Linked DNA regions of Homo sapiens. The protein of the gene in region 1 interacts with the protein of each later gene in a pairwise test. Each region holds a gene or a part of one and is shown on either strand. Other genes may lie near its edges.

Region 1 (3,656 bases):
ACAGAGTAGGGGCTGAACAGATGCTTGGTCATGGACATCACTTTCCTTTTTTTTTTTTTTTTTTGGCATTGTGTACTAGACTGGTAGATTCTTTAATCACCATACCCTGTTCATTGGGAAAGAAAGATGGTCAGGCTTCCTTCTGCTTTGGTCCATAGCCTCTCAAATCTTATGGATGAATTTTCTGCTTCTGAGACTTAGAAGGTAGAAGCAAGACTTGCGGCAAGATAAATGAGATGGATTGGGACTTGGGTTTCAGCAATGCCTTCCTTATCTGTTCTATGAATAAACTGCTATGTGCTAATCCCAGCAGCCATTTGATTTATGTTGATGAGTAATATCTCTTTGGAATTGGTTGCAATTTGAGAAGAATTGTTAGAGCAGTAATTATAACCATAGAAATTCACCATATACTAATTCACGATGCTGGCTGCTCAAACGGTTCAGTTTTTTCCTCTAGAAATGTCTATTTGTGCATGAAAATGTTCCTAATTATCTCACTCCTTCACCTCACCTCTGAGCTACTCTGTCCCTTTGAGACCTTTTTTCCCCCACTCGTTATACATGGAGAGACCTTCACCTGTAAGCCCTACCTCTCAGGTCAGGGGCCATGTATCTTTGCCTTTGGACTCTCAAAACCTACTTGGAGCCTGGCATGAGATCAGTGTTTAAATGTCTATTGGAGGAATTAAAAAGATATCTCCATATCTGTTTATATTAGAAAATAGCACATGCACTGGACTCTTGGGCTGGTGTCTTCTCGCAGTATGTTCAAATCAACTAATTAATTTATTCAGCACCTGTTATGTGTCAGACACTGGGGAAATTTAAAGTAAAATAAGACACTCATCCTACCTTTAAGGAATTCACAGCCCTTAAAGGGGACAGCTGCCCTGGGTACAGCTATTGAATCAACAGGTAAGCATGTGACTTAGGGTCACAAAACTCTTTCTGAGTCTGGACCTGATTCTAAATGACCTTTGCTCTTATTATACTTATTACAATTTAAAATGTCACATCCTGCCACCCCAAATTCAACTCTTTTTCACACATAACCATTTGTACTATTACCAGGTTATAATTGTATCGTAAGTTTGAATGTTTTGACTAGACAGAGGGGATTAAAGCTAAGGGAGAAACTTCCTCACCTCTTCAATCATGTCCAACAGAGCTTTGTTACAGTTCTCAAATCGGGCTTTCCATGTGGCTGTGTCCTTTTCCAGCTTCTTCATTTTCTTAGTTGTCTACAGAAATTAGAGTGAGTGTGTGTTAATCTTGAAAAGTTAATATATCAAGGAAGCTATTAGCTCCATATGTGAGACCAGGAGAAGCCCTTTTGTTACCAGATGCTGAAGCAAACAAATGTTCAATGTCAAGAATGAAGATTGTAGCAGAGTCATAATTTATTTCTGAGCCGTCTAGGGCAGTGGCAAGCAAACTTATTTGCACCTGAGCCAATTCAGGAAATGGGAAATGACTTAGGGGCACATGGTTTTGTCACTGCTTTTTCTTTCATTTAAAAGAAGAATATCTTTATGGAGTTCCATGAACAAGCCTGTAATTTAGGATATTTACTGTATTGAATAGAAGACTATCACAGTGGGAAAGCTGGCATGGCCTTTTTAGCCATTAAAATGTTGATAATATCTGGGCACATCTGAGAAGTTGCTGCACAAAAGCAGTCTCTGTATTTTCTGGGTCTTTACATTTATAGAGTGAGGTAGAGTTCACAAAATGTGATTACATGCATTATTTGTTTCATCCTTGAAACAGTCCCACAAGGAAGGTTCTATTTTCACCCCCATTTTATAAATGGGGAAACCGAAGTTCGGAGAGGTAGAGTAATATTTAGGTGAATTAACAGAACAGTGGGGCTGCCATTCTTTTATTTCATTTAATGAAGCATATAGAATGTCTGGTGGTCACCAGGCCCTGGGCTGGGTACGAGGAAGTAAGAAGTGAATAAAATGCAGCCTGTGTTTTTCGAACCTGAGGCTACTCACATTCTTGTTTGTAGGATCTCTTCTTTGCTTAGATGAAGTGGAGAACGAGGCATGTACTCAGGTGCAGTTTTCCTGGATGAAACATAGCTGGGCACTCGCTGCTTGGTGCCAAGCTGCCTGAAGCTGGGTACCCACGGAGGCCAGAGGCTGGGCCCAAGACTGTCAGCCCCTGGCTCTACAGACAAGCTAGGTTTTTAATTTTGATCATATTTTAAATTAGTTAGTAGTTTGTAAACTTCTTTGTTTTCTTCTTTTTTGTTGTTGTTTGTTTTTCACTCTTTTGCCCAGGCTGGAGTGCAATGGCGTGATCTCGGCTCACTGCAAACTCTGCCTCCCGAGTTCAAGCGATTCTCCTGCCTCAGCCTCCTGAGTAGCTGGGATTACAGGCGCCTGCCACCATTCCTGGCTAATTTTTTTGTATTTCAGTAGAAACAGTGTTTCACCATGTTGGCCAGGCGGTCTTGAGCTCCTGACCTCAAGTGATCCACCCGCCTCAGCCTCCCAAAATGCTGGGATTGCAGGCATGAGCCACTGCGCCCAGCCAGTTGTTTGTAAACTTTAAGGTCATCAATCTTTTTAAGAATGTGGTGAAAGCTATGGGACCACACTTCACAAAAATGTGCATATGTGCATCATTTTTTTTTATGGTAATTTCTAGAGAGTTCTCAGGTCAACTACTAACGTCCATAAATGGACCCAAGATTAAGAACTCCTGATTTAATATTTATTCCACTCTTAAAACTACATAATTTTGAAAAACATGTTTTCCTGTTCTAATTTATTCCAATCTTAAAATGCTAGAATTTCAAAAAAAAATTAAGCAAATGGATAGTTCCATTCTGAAGTGGGAGAACTGTAACATTTAACAAGTGCCAATCTTCTTCAGGTTGCTCATTGTAAAATTTGTCATAATATTTTAAAAATATATTTTAAGAGGATGTTTTCTACACCTCAAAACCATTAATGCCAATCCCTGTTCGGAAACACAGTTCTGATGGCTGATTTTGTATTGGGAAGACACTGAACAAGCTTTAAACATTACATTAAATTATAATACTGGCACCTTATATTTGAAAAATACATGTAAAAAGTTAAAATCCCTTCCAAAATGTATTAATTTAACTTCACAATCTTGTGAGTTAGGCAGGGAAAGTAGTATCTGCATAGATTAAAAAAAATTAGAGGCCAGGCATGGTGGCTCATGCCTGTAATCCCAGCACTTTGAGAGGCCGTGGTGGGTGGATCACATGAGGTCAGGAGTTCGAGACCAGCCTGACCAACACGGTGAAACCCCGTCTTTACTAAAAATATAAAATTAACCGGACATGGTGGTGCATGCCTGTAATCCCAGCTACTCGGGAGGCTGAGGCAGGAGAATTGCTTGAACCCGGAAGGCAGAGGTTGCAGTGAGCCAAGATCGCACCATTGCACTCCAGCCTGGGCAACAAGAGCGAAATTCCATCTCAAAAAAAAAAAAAAAATTAGATTCAGGAAGTTAAGTGAATTGATGAGTAAGACCACTTGATGAGCAAGAACACACCAGAATTGAATTCAGGCTTCCATCTTCTCATTCAAGGCTCTGTCAGTTATATTACATTACATAAGTTAAATTCTCTTCTAAGAAGGTTCTTATAAGATGGTATTTCCTATTCT
Region 2 (3,656 bases), on another chromosome or scaffold:
AGGAGGGCGAACCGTTGTGAGCTGCGTATGCGAGGAAACTAGGATGCGCACTCCTCATGAGAATCTAACTAATGCCTGATGATCTAAGGTGGAACAGTTTTATCCCAAAACCATCATCCTCCCATCCGTGGAAAAACTGTCTTCCACGAAACCAGTCCCTGGTGCCAAAAAGATTGCGGACTGCTGCCTTAGACTCTAGCAATAGCGTCTCAATTGTTCGCCTATAGGCCAAACTTCCATTTTGTTCCATTTTCCACAACGCCAGCAGCTACCTTTCTAAAATGGCAGTCATTTCCTTCTTAAAATCCTTTAATAGTTGCCCACTGCCTATAGGATAAAACTCCAAGCTCCTTAGTATGGCATATAAAAGTATAATGGAATCCCAAACTACCTGGTCATTTCATTTCCTGCCATTCTCTATCCATTACGTACACTAAAGAACAGCTGTACCGGCCGAGCGCGGTGGCTCACACCTGTAATCCTAGCACTTTGGGAGGCTGAGGCGGGCAGATCATAAGGTCAGGAGTTTGAGACCAGCCTGACAAACATGGTGAAACCAAGTCTCTACTAAAAATACAAAAATTAGCCAGGCGTGGTGGCGCGTGCCTGTAATCCCAGCTACTCAGGAGGCTGAGGCAGGAGAATCGCTTGAACCCAGGAGGTGGAGGTTGCAGTGAGCCGAGATCACGCCACTGCACTCCAGCCTGGGTGACAGAGTGAGACTCCGTCTCAAAAAAAAAAAAAAAAAAAAAAGGCCGAGGCGGGCGATCACGAGGTCAGGAGATCAAGCAAGACCATCCTGGCTAACATGGTGAAACTCTGTGTCTACTGAAAAAAATACAAAAAATTAGCCGGGCATGCTGGCGGGTGCCTATAGTCCCAGATACTTGGGAGGCTGAGGCAGGAGAATGACATGAACCTGGGAGGCGGAGATTGCAGTGAGCTGAGATTGCGCCACTGCACTACAGCCTGGGCGACAGAGAGAGATTCCATCTTAAAAAAAAAAAGAGGCCGGGCACGGTGGCTCACGCCTGTAATCCCAGCACTTTGGGAGGCCGAGATGGGCAGATCACCTGAGGTCAGGAGTTCAAGATCATCCTGACCAACATGAAGAAACTCCATCTCTACTAAAAATACAAAAATTCAGCTGGGCATGGTGGCATATGCCTGTAATCCCAGCTACTCAGGAGACTGAGGCAGGAGAATTGCCTGAATCCAGGAGGCGGAGGTTGCAGTGAGCTGAGATCGTGCCATTGAACTCCAGCCTGGGCAACAAGACCAAAACTCCGTCTCAAAAAAAAAAAAAAAAAAAAAAGAATAGCTGTACCATATTAAAGCAAGCCATTCCATTAAGTACTGTGTTATCTTAGCACCATATGTGCCTTTGCAAGTATGGAAATGACAACCCTTTTTACTCTATCTCATGAACCCTCTTACCTATTTCTTTTTTTTTTTTTTTTTTTGAGACGGAGTCTTGCTCTGTTGCCCAGGCTGGAGTGCAGTGGTGCAATCTTGGCTCACCGCAACTTCCACCTCCCGGGTTCAAGTGATTCTCCTGCCTCAGCCTCCCAAGTAGCTGGGACTACACGTATGCGCCACCACACCAGGCTATTTTTGTACTTTTAGTGGAGACAGGGTTTCACCATGTTGGCTAGGCTGGTCTTGAACTCCTGACCTCAACTGATCCACCCACCTCAGCCTCCCGAAGTGCTGGGATTACAGGCGTGAGCCACCACCCATTACCTTTCTGCCAGCCATTACCTTTTCGCCTAGTGATAAATTGTTTATCCTTTAAACAAGAGCTCAGTGATAACTTCCTTGTCTCCACTAGGCAAGAGTACCTTGTACTTCATTATAACACTCACTATTCTGCGTTATAATTGTGAGCATCTCTCTCCCAAGCAGAGCTGTGATCTTGTTTATCTTCTATGTGCTGGCACACAGTAGGTGCTCAATATACAACAGCTAAATCGAATGTACCAACCACAGTTTTAAAATACACAATGGCGATGTGGTACATCAAGCTCTTCTAGGTATATTCTATGGTTCTTGAATATCCCTAGTTTCTGCATTGGCACATCACATCACACTTGATGCTACAATGTGACTACTGTGGTTACATGAGTGTGTTATTCTAACTCCAGACTCATATAACTGTATCACTGTGGGAGAAGGAGAAAGTACTGGCTCTTCTTCCCTTCCCTTCCCTTGTGCTCATCCCCAGGAACTGTGGTTATCATCAGTGTAAATGACACAGTGGGACCCACTACAAAAAGTAGTGTCCTACCTACCACTTCAGGTCTGAGGTAAGTACTATTCTTTCTTTCACTTTTGCAAAGATTGTGTTGGGCAGAGATATGGGTAGAATATTCTCCTTGAGCCTGGTGCCACAGCTGAAGAGAATCAAAGACTTCAGTTGCTCACAACTAGTTCTTCCTTAGGCTTTAAAAAGTACAGGGAATAAGAAAGCTGATATTCATATTCACCAACATGGAAGAACAGGTAAGAATTTGTGAGGAAAACCTGGCAATGAACAAAATATATAATCAACTTAAGCATCTCCAGCTAAACCTCTGTACAAGTAGGTAACATCCAGTCAAGACAAAGTAACCCTAACATCTGGTATGCCCTGCAAGTGAGTCTAACCATAATAATAGCTATAATTTATTAAGCATCTACTCTGTGCTAGACACCACATTAGGTGTTTTATAAATATTACCCTAATCTTTAAACACCTTATGTAGGATTATTTCTATTTTGCAGATAAGAAAGTGGAAGCTTAACAAGGTTGGATAACTTGTTCACATCATATAACTAGCAGATGGTAAGAGTTAGGATTCAAACAAATGTGGCTATTTCCATTGCATCATCAGAGAGAAAAGTGTTCTAGTTACCTATTTTAGATCTAGACAAGTTATTTTCAAATTGGAATGTGGTTTGATCTTGATTATTGAAAAGATTTTAGATTTTCAATGACCACAAATCCGAAATAATAACACTATCTGGTAATCATACATTCTCCTATCAATTTTTCTTATGCCACACTCACCTTGCCCCCTATCCGGACCTGAGCCTGAAGTTTGGCTAACTTTTCTTGATTCATGCTGTTGGTAAATCTAGGGGGGGAAAAATAGATTTGTTAAAGTCACTCTTTTGCCGAAATTAACAAACTGTTTATGCAACAGTACCTTCTGGTTCACTGAGCTTGTAGTATGCATCAACACCATGACCATATTAATACTGTCTATATTCTTAATAAACATTAATAACTTGTTCTAGCTTCATAAACCAGATATTTTTAAAAATCAAAATTAAATTACCATGAGGGAATCAAATATACAAACAGAAAGTAGAATGGGATTCAAAGTCACCTATTCAAAGATCCCTCCTTAAAACATGATTCAATCCTTTGGCATTCAGTTAAGCCTAACCAATTATGAAATCTCTGTAGGCAAGCCAGTTTTTTTCCCCCAAAGATTTTTACAGCAGAGAGCTGTTACCAAATGTTATTAGCAAAATCTTCAAGTAGATTTTTTTCCTCCCAAATCACATTCTGTATTTCTTATAAACCATAAAGATGACAAAAGGAAAAAAAAGCTGAACAAAGAAGAAATTCAACAAAAGGCTGTCTAGCTGTCAAGATATCAAGTAGTCAT

What was found.
Region 2: the proteins of TXLNB (region 1) and BTF3L4 interact in binary tests that used the Homo sapiens proteins (3 or more experiments, as listed by UniProt).

The regions. Positions count from the first base shown.
Region 1 is NC_000006.12:139,243,447-139,247,102, forward strand, and holds part of TXLNB (beta-taxilin), read right to left. Parts: intron 1,245-3,656; coding exon 1,149-1,244; intron 1-1,148. UniProt on the Homo sapiens protein: Promotes motor nerve regeneration. May be involved in intracellular vesicle traffic.
Region 2 is NC_000001.11:52,059,295-52,062,950, reverse strand, and holds part of BTF3L4 (transcription factor BTF3 homolog 4), read right to left. Parts: intron 3,117-3,656; 5' UTR 3,104-3,116; coding exon 3,050-3,103; intron 1-3,049.